Linked DNA regions of Homo sapiens. The protein of the gene in region 1 interacts with the protein of each later gene in a pairwise test. Each region holds a gene or a part of one and is shown in the gene's direction. Other genes may lie near its edges.

Region 1 (7,572 bases):
TTGGTCATGAAAATTAACCAGACAAGGCTGTCACTGCCGAATGTGCCTCTTCCCACCTGGGTTATCTCTGCCTCCTAGAGCACCTCGCTTCAAGGAGAAAAGTGACATTTAGACAGGGCCTATACTGACTAGACAGGTCAGTTGGCTTTCTCACTTCCTTCATTCTCCTCTCAGATGGGAAAGGGAGGAGACAGCCTGAAAAGCCCGTTTCTCGCTAGGATCTAGATTGCAGTAGTTGAGAACGGACCCTGGAATCAGATGGGGCCTCCAGCCTCCATACAACTTCCAGCTCAGCCATCTAGAAGCTGGGTGACTCAGTTTCTTTCCGCCAAATGGTGGTAGTATCTACTGCAGGGTTGTTACCAGGTTTCAGTGGGATTAAGTAGAATAGCACAAAGCATAGTGAGAATGCAGTATGTGTTAGCTACGGTTATTGCTATTTAACAGATACTATGATTTTTGAGCAAGAGACATCTCTGAACCTTGGTGATCCCTGCCTACTTAATGGCACCGTCTTGCGGGAAGGGGGAATCTCAGCTTAATAGGTAAGGTGATTTTTCAAGAACTACTGAGTAGAAGATTTAAAAACCTCTGTAACGCTCCAAACCTGTAACCAATTGTATGGATAAGTAGTGTCTAGAGGGGAACTTATTTTTTAAAACTGACAATATTGGCCAGGCGCGGTGGCTCACGCCTGTAATCCCAGCACTTTGAGAGGCGGAGGCGGGTGGATCATGAGGTCAGGAGTTCAAGGCTAGCCTGGCCAACAAGGCGAAACCCCGTGTCTACTAAAAATACAAAAATTAGCCGGGCCTGGTGGTGGGCACCTCTAATCCCAGCTACTCGGGAGGCTGAGGCAGGAGAATCGCTTGAACCTGGGAGGTGGAGGGTGCGGTGAGCCAAGATCGTGCCATTGCATTCCAGCCTGGGTGACAAGAGCAAAACTCCGTCTCAAAAAAAAAAAAAAAAAAAAACCTGACAATATTTATTAAAAACTATTAAGTTTTTGGCTGGGCGCGGTGGCTCACGCCTGTAATCCCAGCACTTTGGGAGGCCGAGGCGGGCGGATCACGAGGTCAGGAGATTGACACCATCCTGGCTAACACGGTGAAAACCTGTCTCTGCTAAAAATAAAAAAAAATTTGCCAGGCGCCGTGGTGGGCGCCTGTAGTCCCAGCTACTCGGGAGGCTGAGGCAGGAGCATGGCGTGAACCCGGGAGGAGAAGCTTGCAGTGAGCTGAGATCGCACCACTGCACTCCAGCCTGGGCGACAGAGCGAGACTCCGTCTCAAAAAAAATAAAGTATTAAGTTTTTGATAATAATCAATGTACATAAACAACAGGAAATAATCAGGCAGGTCAGTCTGTAAGGGGCAACATCTTGGAATTCAATTGTTTTAAACCATAGATCTTAAAGGTTCATCTCTGTGTAGATGCTCTCAAGCATCAAGGTGCTCTCTGAATGTTTAGATTTCAGAGCTTAGGTAAGACATTTCTATGGACACAGAGGTGAAAGGGCTACAGATAAGGAGGTAGTCCAGGTGGACCAGGTGTGGATGAGCATTTGCGAGTTGGTGAAGTGAGCCCAGTGTGGAAAAGGCCTAGGACCTGTGGCATCATTCTGAGTGATGCCAAGTCTTCACTGTGGGATAAAGCCTACATGTGACTGTGCTGGTACTCAATGCTGAAAAAGATATAGTGGACACCTGGGATGACTCCTTAGGACGGCAGGAAGTTCTATAATCAGGCCAAAGTACTAGTCTTGCATTCAGAGAAGACCGTCTCCAACAACTATTACCTCATTTATGAATAATGGAGAACTGTCAAATTTGAGTGAGGGGATCAAAGGTCCACTTAGCTTAGAGGCTTTTTTTTTTTTTTAACTTTTAAAATACAGACTGGGTCTCACTATGTTCCCCAGGCTGGTCTTGAACTCCAGGGCTCAAGCAATCCACTGGCCTTGGCCTCCCAAAGTGCTGGGATTACAGGTCTGAGTCACCGCACCCAGCCAGAGAGACTCTTAATACAAAGATTGCATGAATATATCTTCTTGCAGCTGGTTTAACAGTCCCTAATTTCTGAAGCATTACTAGTCTTTTGGTTTAATTTTCTTTCTTTTTTTTTTTTTGAGACAGAGTCTTGCTCTGTCGGCCAGGCTAGAGTGCAGTGGCAAAATCTTGGCTCACTGCAACCTCCATCTCCTGGGCTCAAGCAATTCTCCTGCCTCACCCTCCTGAGTAGCTGAGATTACAGGCATGTGCCACCACGCCCGGCTAATTTTTGTATTTTTAGTAGAGACAGGGTTTCACCATGTTGGCCAGGATGGTCTTGAACTCCTGACCTCAGGTAATCCGCCTGACTCGGCTTCCCAAAGTGCTAGGATTACAGGCGTGAGCCCTTTTGGTTTAATTTTCCTAATATTCGATTTAAATTGGCTACTTGAATTTTTCTCTCCAGAAACATCTTTCTACAGCATGAGCTGTGATGCAGTCACTGTATGACTTTTTTTTTTTTTTTGAGACAGAGTTTCGCTCTTGTTACCCAGGCTGGAGGGCAATGGTGCAATCTCGGCTCACTGCAACCATCACCTCCTGGATTCAAGCGATTCTCCTGCCTCAGCCTCCAGGGTAGATGGGACTACAGGTACGCGCCAACACGCCCGGCTAATTTTTTTTTGTATTTTTAGTAGAGACAGGGTTTCGCCATGTTGCCCAGGCTGGTCTCAAACGCCTAACCTCAGGTGATCCACCCACCTCGGCCTCCCAAAGTCTTGGGATTACAGGCGCGAGCCACCGCGCCCGGCCGGCCACAACTTCTTAAGAATACCTACCTATCTGATTTTCGCCCCTTTCCTATGATGCTGAATACCTATCTGATTTTTGCAGGAACTATTTTCTGTAATTTTGCCTCAAATTATGCAGTTTTCTCTTTGGACATTTTTACCTATTCTGACAGCTCCTGCTTTACTCTTTCCATTCTCTTTCTTGGAACTAGCTTTTTCTTTTAACAAACTCCTTCCTTCATCACAATCATCCCACTCATCATCTGACACTATTTTGAGCACTCCTTTACTTTCTCTGGTGATTTAAAAAATAACGTTCAGCCAGATGCGTGGCTCAATCCAGTAATCCCAACACTCTGGGAGGCGTAGGTGGGCGGATGGCTTGAGTCCAGGAGTTCCCGACCAGCCCGGGCAACACAGCGAAACCTCGCCTCTACAAAAAATACAAAATTTAGCCGAGAGTGGTGGTGCTACTCAGGAGGTTGAGGCAGGAGGATCGCTTGAGCCCAGGAGGTCGAGGCTGCAGTGAGCCGTGATTGTACCACTGCACTCCCGCCTGAATGACAGGGCGATACTCAGTCTGGAAATAATAACAATAGTAACAATGTTCAGCTTAACCTGTGATGAGTGCCTTGACATCATCTCTTCATGAAGAAGATCCACCAAAATAAAATGGTTACAATTATTAGCCCTACAATACATCAAAAAAAAAAAGAAAAGAAAGAAAATCTGTCCCTGGCTTAGCCATTAGCCACCAAATCTGTGTGTTCAGGTGCTCTGTGACTGAAAATCTTGCCCTCGACCTGGGTCTGAGTTACATTCTGAGGTTTGGGGGCTTCTCACACCACGGAATTTATCACCTGAGCAACTTCAACCTGACAAATCCCTCCTAACGCCCTGCTCTGAGACCCCTTTAGGCGGTCTCCGGAGTACTCAGTGTACCTTTTTTTTTTTTTTTTCTTTGAGACGTAGTCTCGCTCTGTCGCTAGGCTGGAGTGCAGTGGCGCGATCTCGGCTCACGCAAGCTCCGCCTCCCGGGTTCAAGCGATTCCCCTGCCTCAGCCACCCGAGTGGCTGGGACTACAAGCGCGCGCCACCACGCCTGGCTAATTTTTTTGTATTTTAGTAGGGGTTTCACTATGTTGGCCAGGATGGTCTCGATTTCCCGACCGCCTGATCCGTCCGCCTCGGCCTCCCAAAGTGGTGGGATTACAGGCGTGAGCCACCGCGCCCGGCCTTCAGTGTACTACTTTCCTTATTTTATTTTTTGAGACAGCGCCTCGCTCTGTCGCCCAGGCTGGACGCAATGGAGCAGTCACGGATCACTGCAGCCTCGACCTCCCGGGCTCAAGCGATTCTCCCGCCTTAGCCTCCCAAATTACTGGGACCACAGGCTTGCGCCACCACGCCCTGCCATCGGCTCTCATTTCCTTTTCCCATCCTAGTCTTCCATCAGGCGTCCTTTCGGCGCACATTTCAGTGTCCTGCGGGGCTCACCAGTGTCCTTCCTCCAGGGCCTCAGGGGCAGTCAGAGGGATCTTTCCCGCCGCTCCACTCCCTCCTCCTCCTCCCCCTCCCCCTATCCCCTCCCCTCCCCTCCCTTCTCCTCTCCAGAAACGTCCTCGCTTGTCCGCCTCCACCGCCTCCCCCGCCAGCCGTGTCGGCTCTGCTCCGCGCCCAGCCGGCCAACCGGCGGCTCAGCTCTGGCGCGTCACAATGCGCCGTCGCGGCCCCGCCCCCGGACGCCGGACGCAGAAACTCCGCCCTGCCGCGGTCCTTGCGTCCTTCCGGCTCCGTCGTGGAAGCAGGACTGCGCCGCGTCTTCCTCAAGGTGGGGTTCGGGGGGCCACCGAATCGCTGTCACGCCGGCAGGTAGCAGGGGGTGGGGACGCGGGCTCCTTGGGCTTCTGTTTCCTGGTGTCCAGGGCAAAGGGCTGAGCCGGGCAGTAGGGCCTAGTCGGGGCCTGGCTCGCCGGGAGCAGGAGGGCTTCCGGCAAAGCCGCGTGCGCTCGACGGGCAGGCGCTGAGGATTGGGGCCGGCAGCGCGCCTGACCCCGCCCCTCGTAGGCTCCGCCCCGTGCTCGCAGGCGGGGGTTTCCATGGTGATGGTCAACAAGCCTCAACTGCCTCTGCTACAACTGCCAAGTTCCCCGCGTCCCACCCTCCTCTAGGTGCTCCAAGGGACCACCGGGGTGCCTGATATGAGAGCGGGAGTGTAGAGACTCGGAGGCCGAGGTGAGGGGCGGCCGAAGTCTCCGAGGTCGAAGGCCGCACACCCGGGACCTAGCGGGGACCGGGTCCCCCTGGGGGTGGGGACGGGGGGTGGGATTTGAGATTAGGGAGACTATCCGAAGTCCAGGGCCCCGTACCCGGACTACCTGGGGACTGGGCCTATTGGGGTGGGGATCGTTGGGCTGGGGCTGGGATTTGGGATCAGGGAAGAGCGATCTGAGTTTAAGCGCCGCAAACCTGGGACCGAGCGAGGACTGCACATAATGAGGGGCCGTGGCGCTGAGATTTGGGTGACGGGATTCGAGGTCGAGGGGCCCGTACGTGGGACCGGCAAGAACTGGACCCACTGGGATCGGGAGACGCAGCGTCGGAGGTCGAGAGCCGCACGCCCAGACAGTGGTCCCACGCGGTGAGCACCGCGGGCTGAGATTTTGGAGTCAGGAAAGCGCGGGGAAGGCACGGACGGCCGGGTGCGTTAGTCCGGCCCCCTGGCGGGGAGCTGGCGACTGCCGGAGGGCTCTGAAAGTGAGAACAGGCCTGGCGCAGTGGGAGGCCCAGCCGGGAGGATCTCTTGAGCCCAGGAGTTCCCGACAAGCCTGGGCAACATAGACTGTCTCTACTGAAAAGTAAAGAAAAAAAAATTAGCCACGTGTGGTGGCGCGCGCCTGTTGTCCCAGCTACTCGGGAGGCTGAGGCGGGAGGGTCGCTTGCTCTGAGGTCGAGGCTGCAGTGACAGTGATTGTGCCACTGCATTCCAGCCGGGCGACGGAAATGAGACCTTGTCTCAAAAGAAGTAATAATAGTAATAATACCTGAGTAAAATGAAAGCCGCGCGCTCACGTGGCTGCAGGCGCCTGAGAGTTGCACAAGACTTCCTTGTGGGGAGTTGGCTCCGCCCTCCTCCCACGCCCGGTTCCCGTAGCCTTAGCTCTCGGCCCCGGGCCCTTTTTCCTCCTCGGCTGCGCCGCGTGTCCTCGGAGCGCGGTCCCTGTATTGGTCTCCTGCTCCTAGAGGTATCGTGTTTGTATTTGGGGTGAAAATCTGACTCGTGCGCGCTCTTCAGCTTAGTCGTCCTTTTTTTTTTCCTTTTGTTTGTTTGTATTAAGTATTTTCGTCGATTCCGCCCTGCTCGTAGGAAACTTGTGGACGGGGCCCGGCTCCTGCTGCGCCGGCTGCCCGGCTCCCCCAACCGCAGAGTCGTGGACCAGGGTTTTGAGGAGCAAGGCACCCGACTCGCCCTCCCCCCAAGGCCGCCCCGGGCGCGGGAACCCCTCCCCCTAGGCGCCTGGGACCCCCGCTCGGCTCCGCGTGTGTCCCGGCGGAGGGTGGAAGGAGAGCCGAGCTCGGCCATTGCCCGCGGGCGGCCCGGGGACGAGCTGACGCGCCTCTTTAGTTCTCGAAACTGCTCGCGGGCGCTGGGGGCTCGGGCCGGCCATCTGCGTGGCGGGACGCGAGGCGCGCGCTGGCGGCTGCGCGCGAAGGGCAACGGGCGGCGGCGGCGGCTTCCCGGAACCGCGCGGGGCGGGCCCTGCGCCGGGGTCAGGGCCACAGCCTCAGGCGGCAGGGAGTTCTGAAAGCGTAGTTTTCAGTCGTTCCGTCCCAAAAGTCATCTTAATTCTTCCAAAAATACACGCATATAATTCTTTCTACTTAGTTATATTTTTAAAAGTTAAATACGTGGTTGTCTCTGAATTCCTAGTAAGATGAAAATTTCTTGGGTTCTCCAGGTAGGTGAAAGATACCTTAAGTGCTATTCCTGCAAAGTGACTCGTTGCTCTCACAGAATTTATAAACTATAAAATAAGACATTACTACTTTAATGAATATTAAGAGAGAGATTGCTTTATTCCTAAGCAAGAAGATCTTTTCCCTTGTAGGTATTACATTCCGGTGTGCATTCTGTAGATTAGAGTCATTATCGGCCGGGCGAGGTGGCTCACGCCTGTAATCCCAGCATTTAGGGAGGCCGAGGTGTGGGAGGATCGCTTGGGCCCCAGAGACCTACCCCGTCTCTATAAAAAAATATGTATTATTTTTTGAGACAGGGTCTCACTTTGTTGCCCAGGCTGGAGTGCAATGGTGTGATCTCGGCTCGCTGCCGAGATCCTCCTGTGCTCAACGGATCCTCCCACCTCAGCCGCCGAGTATCTGGGACCACGGGCACTCTCCAGCACGCCCGGCAAATTTTTGTATTTTTTGTAGAGATGGGGTCTCCTTATGTTGCCCAGATTGATTTTCAAACTTTTGTGCTCAAGCGATTCTCACGCCTCTGCCTCCCAAAGTGCTGGGATTACAGGCGTGAGCCATCGTGCCCGGCCACTTTTTTGTAAACTGCCAAGTTTTCTGTTAAGGGTAGCGTTATAAAGCTTTATTCAGGTAAAAAATGGAATTTATTTAAGGGAAAAGACTGAGTAAATAGAAAGTTACTTCTCCCACGTGGCCAGAACCTTGGAAAGCCTGGAGGCAAATGAGAGCCCGGTGGGGGTAGATGCCTGCAGGGGCTGCAGAAATGTGACAGGCCCTTTCCTTGGAGGTGACTTCTCTAATTCCCTCTCCCC
Region 2 (7,022 bases), on another chromosome or scaffold:
GGTTTCTGCCTCTTGGCTCTTGCGAATGACGCTGCTGTGAACATGGGTGTGCAGGTGTCTCCTGAAGACCCTGCCTCCAGGTTTTTTGGATGTGTACTTAGGAGCAGGATCGCTGGGTACCAAGGTAGCGTTGTAATTTGACTTTTGCTTGGCTGGCTCCTGGGGACCCTGAGAGCCAGCCAGGCACCCCTTCTTCTGCCTCTGTCGACCCTCAGCTTTCAGTGTCTGGCACATCACAGGTGCCCAGCGGAGCCTGGGTCGGCCTCTCTGAACTCTGTGTCTCTGTTTCCTGACCTTAGAGGATGGGGCTAGACCTGGTGTTGCTGAATCGCTCTTGGTCCCCAGCCATCCCTGGCTGGAGCTCCTAGTGCCCAGGCTGCAGCCCTGTGCACAGTGAGGTGGGCGGGGCCCTCACGGAGCTCCCCAGTTGGAGCTGGAGGTGAAGGTTTCAGTCCTTACATTTGGGGGCCTGCAGTGACGGCCCATGTCATCCTCTGCCTTGGCCCTTGGGCCACTCAGGGTGATTCTGTGACCAGCCAGGGCTCGACACCATTGATGACTCAGGGTCCTCTGTGCGTCCCTTTGCCTCCTTCTGGAGTGACCTACCTGGAGGCGCCCAGGAATGCCAGAGCGGTTTGTGTCGTCTCCTTGTCTCCGTCGCTGCTGCCTGCCTATGACTTGAGCCTTGGCAGCTGCTTCCCCTCTCCACTGCACCCCATCGTGCTTCAGGAGCTGCCTGTGACTCCCCAGGAGCATGGCTCTGGGCCTGCAGGTGGCCCATGGGATGGTGATGCTACCTCACCTGTGTTCCCCACCACGCCATCTGCCGCCTCTTCTGCCCATCCCCCTCGTGTCCCCCAAGCCGCGTCCAGGGCCCTGTGCTTGTTCCCTCCCCTACCTCCCTCCTGGGGTCCCTGAAAGCAGCAGGACGCTGGGCAGGAGGGGCCCCCACTTTGTGACTGCGACGGGTAAGGAAGGTGACGCAGCCTGCGTGCAGGGCATGAACTCTCATTCCCACACAGGTTTAAAGGTTTATTTGGAACATTAGGAAGGATGAGCTTTGTGGAAATTCAGCATTGTGTTTCCTGCTGTGTTTGGCTGACTGGGGGTTTGCGATGGTCTGTGTTTCTTACTGTGTTTGACTGGTTGACTGGGGGTTTGCGGTGGTCTGTGTACCTGGGCGGTTCCACATTTGGGGACAGGTGCTGCGTCCAGTGTGTCCGTCCTTCTGATTAGAACAGGAATCTGGAAGAAGGGAAGGGAATTCACTGCTTGCCACGTGCTGACAGGGCGTGGACCCAGGGAGCTTAGGGCTGCCTCTGGGTCCATGATAACCAGGCATTGCGTGCCTCTCTGCTCCCCAGGTGTCCCTACCTGCACCGGACGACGGGGGACACAGAACGCAAGTACCACCTGCGTTACTACAAAACAGGAACCTGCATCCACGAGACAGACGCACGTGGCCACTGCGTGAAGAATGGGCTGCACTGTGCCTTCGCGCACGGCCCCCTGGACCTGCGGCCGCCCGTGTGTGACGTCAGGTGAGTGGGCATCCACGAGTGGGCACTTGGCCTGCCTGCTGCTGTGGGCTCTGCTGGATGAGCAGGAACTCGGCAAGTGGCTCGCCTCCCTGCTGCTGCAGGCTCTGCTGGCCCAAATCTCTCTCCTCCAGAATTTCTTTCTGAGTCTGGATGTTAGTCCTTTTTTTGCTTTTTTTGAGACGGATTCTCGTTCTGTCACCCAGGCTGGAGTGCAGCGGCGCGATCTCAGCTCACTGCAAGCCCTGCCTCCTGGGTTCACACCATTCTCCTGCCTCCGCTGCCCGAGTAGCTGGGACTACAGGTGACCACCACCACGCCCAGCTAATTTTTTTTTTTTTTGTATGTTTAGTAGAGATGGGGTTTCACCATGTTAGTCAGGATGGTCTCGATTTCCTGACCTTGTGATCCACCCACGTTGGCTTCCCAAAGTGCTGGGATTACAGTGAGCCACTGCGCCTGGCCTCTGGATGTTATTTCTTTCTTTTCTTTTCTTTTTTTGTTTTTTGAGATGGAATCTCGCTCTGTTACCCAGGCTGGAGTGCAGTGGCGTGATCTTGGCTCACTGCAACGTCTACCTCCTGGGTTCACGCCATTCTCGTGCCTCAGCCTCCCGAGTAGCTGGGACTACAGGCGCACACCACCATGCCTGGGTTATTTTGTTGTATTTTTAGTAGAGACAGGGTTTTACTGTGTTAGCCAGGATGGTCTCCATCTCCTGACCTCATGATCTGCCCGCCTCGGCCTCCTGAAATTCTGGGATTACAGACGTGAGCCGCTGCACCTGGCCTCTGGATGTTATTTCTAATGAGACAGTCCTTCAGCTCTTCTCACTGTGTGTTTCTCTTCTGGGCCCGGAGGGCAGCTCACTGGGGTTGAGGCTGTGAGGCACTGCTGCTTTCCAGGAGAACGAACTCAGCACACAGTCTGGGGCAGACAGTCCTTCAGCTCTTCTCACTGTGTGTTTCTCTTCTGGGTCCGGAGGGCAGCTCACTGGGGTTGAGGCCGTGAGGCACTGCTGCTTTCCAGGAGAACGAACTCAGCACATGGTCTGGGGCTGCAGAAAAGCGAATCCTGCCCACACAAAACTCCGCTCTTACTTGGGTGGGGCTGAGCATAGTGGCCCATACATGTAATCCCAGTGCTCTGGGAGGCCAAGGTGGGAGGATCGCTTGAGCCCGGGAGATGGAGACTGCAATGAGCTGTGATTGCGTCACTGCACTCCAGCCTGGGGGACAGAGCCAGACCCTGTCTCAAACAAGACAAAGCAAACAAAATGAAGTGGTTGGGATTTGGATGAGGACTGCGGGCCAGGACAGCGGAGCGCCACACACTGAGACTCCGTCCTGAACCCTTCGGCAGCAGCCTCTCTGTGCAGTGGTGGGAGGGGAGCGTGCCCTCCAGTGACCTCGTTTCAGCTTTGGAGGCTCCAGATGCAGAGCTGTGACCACTGTGTCCTCGGCTTGCAGGGAGCTGCAGGCCCAGGAAGCCTTGCAGAACGGCCAGCTGGGCGGCGGGGAAGGGGTCCCGGATCTGCAGCCTGGGGTCTTGGCCAGCCAGGCCATGATTGAGAAGATCCTGAGCGAGGACCCCCGGTGGCAAGGTAACTCCACGGCCGCAGCTGAGGGCGGTGGTGGGGGGGGCGGGCACAGCGCGAGAACAGCTCGGGCCACTTGGTTCCCTGTGCCTTTCAGTTTACGTGCAAGGTGATCAGATGGGGAAACCGAGGCTCGTGGAGTCCAATACCAAGCCCTCCCCAACAGGGGGTGGGTGCCGAGTGGGATTTGGGCCCAGGCGCCTTCCCCCGCACCTGCTCTGAATCTCTGCGGCAACTGGCATCTCAGTGGGGCCAGCCATTGACCAAGTGGCCGAGGAGGTAGCACAACTCCCACCGGAACTCGTGAGGCGTCCTGTCCCAGAGCCGGGGCGCCCACCAGGCACCCACCAGGATGCTCAGCAGAGCCCCCAGCCCACCAGGCACCCACCAGGATGCCCAGCAGAGCCCCCAGCCCTGCGCCTCTCTGGGGTGGTGCTCTAGACAGCAGCTTTCAAATCCCTGAGCTTGGCCAGAAACATATGGACCAGGGGGCTGTCCCTCGGGGCTGGGGGACCTGCATTCCTGGCTGGCACACAGATGAGGTTATATGCAGGGGAGATTTTGATTTGAAAAAAAACGTGGTAAGGCTGGGAGCACTGGCTCACGCCTGTAATCTCAGCACTTTGGGAGGCCGAGGCGGGCAGATCACTTGAGGTCAGGAGTTTGAGGCCAGCCTGGCCAACATGGTGAAACCATGTCTCTGCTAAAAATACAAAAAATTAGCCGGTTGTGGTGGTGGGCGCCTGTAATCCCAGCTACTTGGGAGGCTGAGGCTGGAGAATCTCTTGAACTCGGGGGGTGAAGGTTGCAGTGAGCCAAGATCACGCCACTGCACTCCAGTGTGGGTGACAGAGTGAGACTCCGTTTCAAAAAAAAAAATGTAAAATACACACAACATAAAATGCACCATTTTTAAGTGTACAGTCCAGTGGCATTTAGCACGTCTGCAGTGTTGTGCAGCTGCCACCTCTCTCTAGTTCCAGAACATTCCATCCCTGCAGAAGGAACCCCCCTGCTTATGAGCAGTTCCTCCCCATCCCCTCCCTGGTCCCTGCACTCACTGGCCTGCATCCCATCTCTGTGAATTTGTGTATTCTGGACATTGCGTATGGCAGCGATTTTTTTTTTTTTTTTTTTTTTTTTTTTTTTTTTTTTTGAGATGGAGTCTCGCTCTGTCACCCAGGCTGGAGTGCAGTGGCACAATCTCAGCTCACTGCAACCTCCGCCTGCCAGGTTCAAGCAATTCTCCTGCCTCAGCCTCCTGAGTAGCTGGGATTACAGGCAGGCACCAGTATGCCCGGCTAATTTTTTATTTTTAGTAGAGACGGGGTTTCACTGTGTTGGCCAGGCAAGTCTTGAACTCCTGACCTTGTGATCCACCCACCTCGGCCTCCCAAAGTGCTGGGATAACAGGCGTGAGCCACCACGTCCGGCCCAGTGAATGACTTCTAAAAATAGGCTTTATTTTTTAGAGCGGTTTCCGGTTCACAGCAAAACTGAGTAGAAAAATAGATTTCCCAAACACCCCCTGCCCCCTCAGCCTCCCCTGCCGTGCACCTCCTGCACTGCGAGGTACGCTCTTTACCAACAGTGAACCCACACTGATGTGTGCTTGTCACCCAGAGGCTGTGGTGCGCATGAGGCTCACCATGCGGCATTTCGGGGTGTGCATGTCTCTGGATTTTAGCATATTCTCAAAAGCTGTGCACACATCACCTCTCTCTAGTTGGAGAACATTTTCATCCCCCAGCAAGGAAGCCGCACACCCACAGCAGGACTCCCTCCCAGCCCTGGTGGTCTCGGCTCCACTCCGTCTCTGTGGGTTCCCTAGTTCTGGGCATTTTCACATAAACAGAATCACACCACGTGGCCTTCTGGCCCGGCTTCCCTCATGGAGCGCGAGTCCTTTGACATCAGCGTGTGCCGTGGCGTGTGTCTGCGCTCCCCAAGTCCTCCTGCAGCCCCTTCCATTTGGGGGACAGCCAGGTCCTTCCACCTTTGGTCTCCTCTGCCCAGCATTGCTTCCAGTCGCGCTGCTCAGGCACCGTGTGGCCCATTTTTCAGATGCCAACTTCGTGCTGGGCAGCTACAAGACGGAGCAGTGCCCGAAGCCGCCACGCCTGTGCCGCCAGGGCTATGCGTGCCCACACTACCACAATAGCCGGGACAGGCGGCGCAACCCCCGGCGGTTCCAGTACAGGTGAGCCTGCGGGACCGTGCTCAGAGGACTCCGGCTGGTGGGCGTCCTTCCCGGCCCGTGGCTCGCGTTGCCCACCCCGGGGTTCTAATGGGAGGGCTGCCCTTGTGGCACCATCATCCCCGGGAGGGGAGGGCATCTCCAAGCACAGTGGCTGTGGGAGGTGCCATGGAGGCCCACGCGTCTGTCCTGGGGATGGGCCTCCCCACCTACGCTCAGTGTCTCCCATGCAGTCCCCTACCGGGGCCCCTCTGCCAGGCAAGGGGACGGAGCACTGCAGGAGGGACCCCAAGCCCAGCTGGGACCCCCGTGTGCCCCACCCGTGCCTCTGGTTGCAGCCACGCTCTCCAGCCTGTGGGCTGCATGCTGTCTCCTCACCCAAGCTGCCAGGGGCTCAGGCACTGTCGTCACCTGGGCTCAATCTTGTCTTCACAGCTGGCAGCTGGGACGCCGGGTCCTTAGGCTGAGTCCCAGGGCCAACAACCCAAGGGTCGCCCTGCCCAGGGTGCACACAGGACCTTCCTCCACCGCCTGAGCCCCAGCTGTCCCCTGGGTCTGGCTTGTGGGTTTGGCACCTCGCAGCCTGCTTGCCTCTGAAGCCCCTTTCTCCTCCTTGCTCCAGCCCGGCCTTCTGGTTGTGCCTGGCCTGGCTTGCCTCCTGTCTGCAGTTTGCACCTGAGAGGGGGGTGGGGGGGTGCAGACCCCACAGGGTGTCTGGATGCCTGGGCCATGGCCTTGGCCTCCCTGAGGCCCTGTCTGTGTCCAGCTCTTCCTTTGAGCAGAGAGCCACCCTCGCCTCTTTTGAATGACCTGGTGCTGCCTCGCATGCCCCGGAGAGCACCTGTGCTTCCTTTGGGAAGGACGCCCCACTCCTTGTTGTTATGCCACGTTCAGTCTCCCTCTGAGCAGCTTCCGAGTAAAGGACCTGAACGGCTGTAGAACAAACCACAAATTAGTGTCTGAGATTTTGTCATCGCCCGTCATGGAAAGAAAATAAAAATTATTTTTTCAACAGGCACTTAATGTGTCCCATAAATACAAATCAGTTACAATAAAGCAGCTAGAGATTCCACGAAGAGTAGAGGATTTTGTTTTTTTATGAGACAGAGTCTCACTCTGTGGCCCAGGCTGGAGTGCGGTGGTGCAGTCTCAGCTCACTGCAGTAGGAACATAGGTAATTTGAAATTGGTGCGGAGTTTTAAATTGTGGGATCAAAACTCTCGCTTCCATTTTATAGAAAGTTGGCGAGGAGACAGCCCCGTGCTGTCTGGGCGCCCGGCCTCACTGTCCCCAGGAGGTTCGGCTGCTTCTCCCCTGCGTTCTCCACGTCCGTGAGGGTGGCTCTGACTGAGACTCAAGTTAAATTCTGTGAAGAACAGCCCCGGGGCTCCTGACCCCATCCTGGCACTGGCCGGGCCTGCGTGTCCGTGAGCGCAGAGCTGCGTTGCCTGTCACTCCAGGGCCCCATGCCCGAGGCCCCTCCTGGTGGGAGGCAGACACCCCTGGGCACACGAGGAACCATGTTTTCCTGTGTCCCCCTGACACCTCCTCATCCCCAGGTCCACGCCCTGCCCCAGCGTGAAGCACGGGGGTCGGGGTGGGGGAGCCAAGTCCTCTGTGTCCCCCTGACACCTCCTCATCCCCAGGTCCATGCCCTGCCCCAGCGTGAAGCACGGGGGTCGGGGTGGGG
Region 3 (7,022 bases), on another chromosome or scaffold:
TCACTGTCATTTCTGCAATATTTTCTTGGTATACAGGTCAGCCCTATTCAGTATGTGAGGGACTAACAGGGAGCAGATACTCATGTGCTTGTTGCTTATTTGGTCATTTTTGTATTGTGGAGTTAAATCTTTCTAATTTCTAAGAATATAAACGATACCAACCCATTGTCATAAATGCTATACATGTGCAGAAGCCGTTGAGGGTCATGATAGAGGTTGGCTACTCTGTGTAATAAATAATTCCCAGAAGTCTTACCATTACTCTTTGCTTCATCCTGTTCTCTTTTCCCCTTAATTTTTTTTATTACTTTTTACTTTATTCTGTCATTGATTCTTTTTGAAAATATACATAAAACATAGCTTATATATAGTCATGCACTGTATAACATTTCAGTCAACAGTGGACTGCATATATGATGGTGGTCTCATAAGATTATAATGGAGGTGAAAAATTTCTATTGCCTAGTGATGTGTAGCCATCATAATGTAGCACAAGGCATTACTTACGTGTTTGTGGTGATTCTGGTGTAAACAGACTTACTGCCAGTCATATAAAAGTGTAGCTCACATAATTATGGGTAGTACCTAATACTTGATAATGATGATAGGTGACTCTCTTACTCATTTGTGAATTTACTATACTATATTTTTAAATCATTAGAGTGTACTCCTACTTATTTAAAAAAAAACAAAGCTGTAGAACCAGGCTCAGATAGGTCCTTCAGAAGGTATTCCGGAAGAAGGCATTGTTATCATAGGAGATGAGAGCTCCATGGATGTTCTTGACCCTGAAGACCTTCCAGTGGGACAGGATATGGAGGTGGAAAATAGTGATATCAATGATCCTGATGCTGTATAGGCCTAGGCTAATGTGTATGTTTGTGTCATAATTTTTTTCTAAATGTTTAAAAAAGTAAAAATTTAAAATTAAAAGAATAGAAAAATGCTTATAGAATAAGGATATAAAGAATAAATATTTTTGTATAGTAGCACAATGTACTTTAAGCTAAAGTATTAAAAAAGTTAAAAAATCAAGTTTATAAAGTAAAAACATTACAGTAAGCTAAGGTTAATTTATTGAAGAAATGGAATTTTAAAAAATAAATGTAGTATAGCCTAAGTGTATAGCGTTTGTAAACCTTTAGTAGTGCACAGTAATGTCCTTGGCCTTCACATTCACTCAACACAAGTACCTCACTTGGAGCAGCTTTTAATCCTACAAGCTCCAGTCATGGTAAGTGCCCTAGGCAGGCATACCATTTTTTATCTTTTTTGCCATATTTTCACTGTACCTTTTTTATGTTTTGATATGTTTAGATACACAAATAATTACCATGTGTTAGAATTGCCTAAGTATTCAGTACAGGAACATGCTCTACAGGTTTGTAGACTGCTATGTACCATATAGCCTAGCTATGTAGTAGGCTATATACATCTAGGTTTGTGTAAGTATACTATATGATTATACAGTGACACAATTTTCAGAACCTACTCTTGTCATTAAGCAATGCATGACCATATTTTTTATTACTCAAAACATTGCTTACTATAAACAATGTCTGCATTTTGCTCTCTTCATATATCCTATAGATCTCTCAAGTATGTGAAGAAGTTCATCCTTTTTCTTTTTTTAAACAATTAAACAGACTTCTTAATTAATTTTCAGAATACTGTGACAGTCCCATTTGGACTTGAATGAGGTGGGTTTAAAGTAAGTACCGTAAATCCTCACTTAACATTGTTGATAGGTTCTTGGAAATTGTAACTTTAAGTGAGATGACGTATGAGGAAATCAGTTCTACCATAGGCTAATTGATATGAGTAAGTTGAGTTCCTACAGCATATCTCTGATCACAAAAATACCCCCAGACTTCTAGATAAAGACTAAAAACAAATGTGAGTTATAGATACATTTAAGAAAGATTAATAAAAACAAATAAGATAATGATTTATGCAGTTATTCCAATTCAGGGTTGTGGGTGGCTGAAATCTATCCCATCAGCTCAGTAGCAAAGTGGGGACCAACCCTGACAGGTTGCTATTCCATTGCAGGGTGCATTGCAACCACACACACACCCATAGTCGTTCAGACTGAGATCATTTAGACATGCTAAGTAACCTAACATACACATCTTTGGGATGTGGGAGGAAATTGAAGTGCCCAGAGAAAACCCACACAGACTTGGGGAGAATGTGCAGACTCTACACAGAACAGTAACCCCAACTGGGAATAATTTTTTTTTCCTTCTCAGTGTTTTAACGAAACAATGTCGAACAAAAGATGTTATTTGAGGATCTGCTGTGTAAAAGGAATCTTGTGTAGAGATATAATAAACCTCTGAAATTTTTAACTCTAGGGATGTTTTTCAAAATCAATTTATAGCAGTTTATGAAAACATGCAAAAAAAAAAAGCTTTATGAAGAGTTGTACCCTATAAATTTTTATTGAGGGGAATAACTGTGGTTTTGACCAGGAGTTCCTTACTCATTGATGACCACAGTCTACTACTACGTGGAACCTTAATCTCAGCCTTTTTTGATGATGCCCAAGTTAATATTTATATTGTTTTGTTCATGGGATAATATATGCAAAATGACTTTATAAACTAAAGCTTTGGAGTTATGCCTGAGTTCCAGTGATGGTTCTTAGCTCTTCATGGTTCTGTTCTTAGCTATTGACTGCAGGTAAGTTGCTTAATTTTTCTGTATCTGAGATAAGGAATACTAATATGGTTGAATTTTTTTAAATGTGTTTATTGCCTGTTTGCTTATTTTTTTATTGTGGAGTTAAGCCTTCTAATTTTCAAGAATTAAGAGTTCATTGTTATGTGCTATACGTATTTATTCCCCTTGATTATATTTCTGTACCTACTTACCTTTTTATTTTAGATTCTGGTCACTTCTATTCCGAAAGTTAGTTATGAAGTACAATCCAGGATTAAGGTGGCATCTAAATTTGGTTAATTTCTGTGCTACCTTTTATGCTATTAGTCTAAATCATTAAGAAAGCATTTAAGAAACTTTTGTAAGCGTTTCTTTTTTTTTCTTGTCATATTTGGGAATAGGATAAATAGCTTAAAATAGTTGAGCTGATTTTTATTTGTATTCTTTTTTTATTATAAAGAAACATTTGCTAGGAAATAAGCTGGATATAAACATAGTTGTATCTCCTTTAGTGCTACCCAGCACTAAAAACTTAGACACGTATAGGGCTGAGCAGCTGGTATAATAGAGTGGGCTCCGTCTCATTTTCTAAGCCTGTGAGTCCTAGCTGCCTACTGCAGCTCGATTTGAGTGGGAGTTGATATAATGTCTTTTTTTTTTTCTCACTTCAGCAGTAAGTATCTGGTTTGCTCATAGTCTTTTGATTAATAGGTAGTTTGAATATTTTTCAAAGAATCAGCCAACATGTGATTATTTTAAAGATTTAAATACCAGATAGATATTAAAATGCAAGGTTATTGCTACTAGATATTACATCTAGCTAAATCAACCATTGTGAAATAATTGAGAAGTAGAGATAATAAAGACATAAACCAATAAATCTTTGCTTGAAAATCACAGGTATGGGAACAGATTGTGAGGACAGAAAAATAAAAAGTAAAAAGAAAAATCATAGGTAATAAGTGTCTAAAGGGTTTCTTCATAGGAACAGTGGTTGTTGACCCCAAATAGGACAAATAGGACTCCCATGTTCAAGAACACATCACCGTTGTTAAAAAGGTCTGCCATTATTAAATAGTGCAATGAAGAACCATTTAGACTTTATTAGAGTCCACGTTATTGGCAAAAGATGTTGGATATTCATAGAAAATCAAACTTGACAAATTCCAAAAGTGTCTTTCAGCTCTGGAACAAAAGATGTCATATAGTTCCTTGCTACCAAAGAGTTTGTTCATATGGTAATAGAGGCCCATACCTTTAGAGGGCAAATACAGTGCTTTAGGAAGGACTTAGATGATATAAATGGTATTTGTCCCTTTTCTCATTTTTATTTACTGATTTTCAACTCACTTGGCTTTTAATGAACATTAGCGTTACTTATCTGTTGGCAGCTGGGTTGGAAAACATTTGTTTTTCTAGACTTTATGAAATGGTAGCCACTGGTGTTGCACTTAATGTTTATTGCCAGTTAGTTCTCTGCAGTTAATCCACAGCAGAGGAATCACACTTCTAAAATGGTTCATTCTCTTCTTCATAGACATTTAAAGTTGAACAAATACTTTCTTGTATATTGTTACTCTGTTTGGATGGAGAGGGAATGTATATGTATCTTAAAAATATTTCTCTTTGCCACATTAAACATGCCTTTTTTCCTTGTGTGTGTGTGTGTGTGTTTTCAGGTCAGATGTACCAACAGTACCAGCAACAGGCCGGCTATGGTGCACAGCAGCCGCAGGCTCCACCTCAGCAGCCTCAACAGTATGGTATTCAGTATTCAGGTGAGCAGGTGTTGAAAGGGAGTTGGCTCATGGTTTTTTGTTTCTATACTCATTAAACTTTAAGTTCTTAATTCCTTGATTTGTAGTACATTGATATAATAGGTATTAAGTTTTTATTAGGGGAAACAACATTTGTTTTATTTATTTTTAAATATTTTACATTAATATTGTAAATCAACATTTCAGTTTTCTGGTGGGGAGATAAAACTTACAGTAGATGATTCTGCAGTAACTTGTAGTATAAAAAGTTTTTAATACAAAGCTGTCTTACTAACATTATCAGTTTATCTCTTAGGCGACTTAGTGCAAGTTTTCCCCCTTCCCTCCACCTCTCCATTTATATGTAACACGTAATTCCAGTGTACTCTTAGTACCTGTAGAAATATGAACAGTTTACTATACATGGAAAGGTGATGTTATTTAAATAAGAGCTCAATTAAGCTACTTAGATTTTAAAATCTCTTGCAAGTATGTAGGAATACCAGAAATAGGCCATAAAAATAAAATCGTATAAAATGTAATTCAGGCAACTAAGAACATTGTTTAGTTGTTTTAAATAAGCATCCTGAGTATTTTGTTTCTATTTTACCATCTGTCCACTGAAGATTATATGTATTTAAGTATGATAAATATTATTAATGTAACTTTGGCTATAATTCCAGTATTTTTTACAGTTATGTCAGAGAGTTTGTGTCCAACTCTTGTTTTACAGCCAAAGATTGAAGTATCAGAATTTCAACTGTAATTAGAAATAATTTATGCAGGTTGAATCTAGTCTAAATTCTATTTTATAGAGTTTTGTGGTATCAGCTAGAGCAGGAGTCAGTAAAGTATAGCCCACAGGCCAAATCTGGACTATTGCCTGTTTTTTTGAATAAAGTTTTATTGGAACACACTTCTACTTTTATATTCTCTACTGCTACTTGGGCACTAGAATGGCAGAGTTGAGTAGTTGCAACAGAAGACCATGTGGCCCACAAAGCCTAAACTATTTACTATCTGGCTCTTTACAGAAAAGTTTGCTGACTCCTGACCTAGACCATAACATTCTGTCATTAATTAAAATTTGAAATATTTTGACACAATTTTATTTAGATTGTATTTGCTGTAGAGTGACTTAACTTGTAGCTACTTGTTTTTAATTGTATAAAATACATAGAACTTAAGTTTGGATTATATCAGGAGGAAGGTTATTTTTAGGATGCAGTTCTTTTAAAAAAATCAGTGTTACAAACTATGTTATTTATAGAAAGAATAGCAGAGCTGAAGAGATTTAGTCATCATTTAATCTCGGGATTTCGGTCCTCACTATGCTTTAGAATCACCTGGGGGAGGCTATGTGTGGGGCCCCATTCCCAGAGATTTTGAATTTCATTTGATTGGGTGTGGGACTCAGGCGTTTGCATTTTATAAATGAGGCAACTAGTTTTGAAAGAGATTGTGACTTGTCAAAGCACATACAGCCATTCAGTGGAGGGAGCTGGATCAGTTCAGTATTTCCCTGTATCATTCTGCATTCTACAACCTAGACTGGAGTTGGCAGACTTACTCCATAAAAGGCTAGATGTCCTATGTATTAAAAAAAAAACTCACATAATTTCCATATTTCCATTTTTTTGCTATTTCTGATGTCCTTCACCTAAAGTTATTTATTATTTTGGAGGGACGGAAGGGAGACTATATATATACACACACACACATGATAGAAGCATTGCCACATTATGTTCAAGAGACTGGTGGGCTGCTAATGAAATCTTCAGCCTGTAGGGTTATTCCCTCCCCTAAGCAATAATTAAGGATCAGATTACTTCCAGGCCCAGTTAAAAAAAAACAATTCAGATTTCAGGTGCCAGGATGAAAAGGCACTTTTCTTTTTTCTCGCAGTGTTAAAATGAATAGGCATTTTCAGTATAAAGCTGAATCCATCTATTTCTTCAAAACCTTATAGTGAAAATTTAAGTTTTATGTAGAGGATAGGAGAACTTGTATGACATTCAGAATTTTTTATGAGTTGGTTTCAGGTCAGTATTTAGATGCTACCATGAGTTAATGCGTTAAAGATACTTGATTTACTTATTAAGAACTAAGCTTGCTCTTAATAAATTTAGTCAGGGTCTTCACTCTGAGTAAAATTTAGTCTTTTCAAATTATTATCTTTGTATTTCTGATCCTACTAGTCTATTAACTTGAATTTGATTGAGAGATATGGAAATAGTCAACTAAATACTCTGCTTGGAGACTAAGAGGTGGTGGTGGTAACATTGGACCATCTTTGACACTGTTGGTTTGCCAGTTTCCCTCTGACCTTTTCCAGTTTTGTTCATGGACTATGTCATAAAGGTTTCTTTCATGAGTAAATTTTGAACCCAGGTTCAAGGTGAGTTCAGAATATACTCAAATTCATTCAATCCTTTTTTTTTTTAATGCAGGGTTGTACATATTTTAATAATTTTCTTATGTATCTGGTATTTAATGCTGACAGGATTCCAGTCAATGGAGAGGTTTCATTGCAAGTAGCTGCAGGTGTGTTTCATGGTAGAGATAAAAGTTTTCAGTGAAGCAGACTTTCGTTGTAAAAAA

Evidence for each region. The genes of interacting proteins can lie anywhere in the genome.
Region 2: the proteins of HNRNPF (region 1) and UNKL interact in binary tests that used the Homo sapiens proteins (3 or more experiments, as listed by UniProt).
Region 3: the proteins of HNRNPF (region 1) and TFG interact in binary tests that used the Homo sapiens proteins (3 or more experiments, as listed by UniProt).

The regions. Positions count from the first base shown.
Region 1 is NC_000010.11:43,406,172-43,413,743, reverse strand, and holds the start of HNRNPF (heterogeneous nuclear ribonucleoprotein F), read left to right. Parts: upstream 1-4,557; 5' UTR 4,558-4,613; exon of another isoform or gene 4,614-4,654; intron 4,655-4,886; exon of another isoform or gene 4,887-5,017; intron 5,018-5,965; exon of another isoform or gene 5,966-6,027; intron 6,028-7,572.
Region 2 is NC_000016.10:1,397,687-1,404,708, reverse strand, and holds part of UNKL (putative E3 ubiquitin-protein ligase UNKL), read left to right. Parts: intron 1-1,364; coding exon 1,365-1,541; intron 1,542-3,007; coding exon 3,008-3,141; intron 3,142-5,199; coding exon 5,200-5,335; intron 5,336-5,767; coding exon of another isoform or gene 5,768-5,867; exon of another isoform or gene 5,868-6,408; intron 6,409-6,569; coding exon of another isoform or gene 6,570-6,629; intron 6,630-7,022. UniProt on the Homo sapiens protein: May participate in a protein complex showing an E3 ligase activity regulated by RAC1. Ubiquitination is directed towards itself and possibly other substrates, such as SMARCD2/BAF60b. Intrinsic E3 ligase activity has not been proven.
Region 3 is NC_000003.12:100,740,490-100,747,511, forward strand, and holds part of TFG (protein TFG), read left to right. Parts: intron 1-4,343; coding exon 4,344-4,442; intron 4,443-7,022. UniProt on the Homo sapiens protein: Plays a role in the normal dynamic function of the endoplasmic reticulum (ER) and its associated microtubules. Required for secretory cargo traffic from the endoplasmic reticulum to the Golgi apparatus.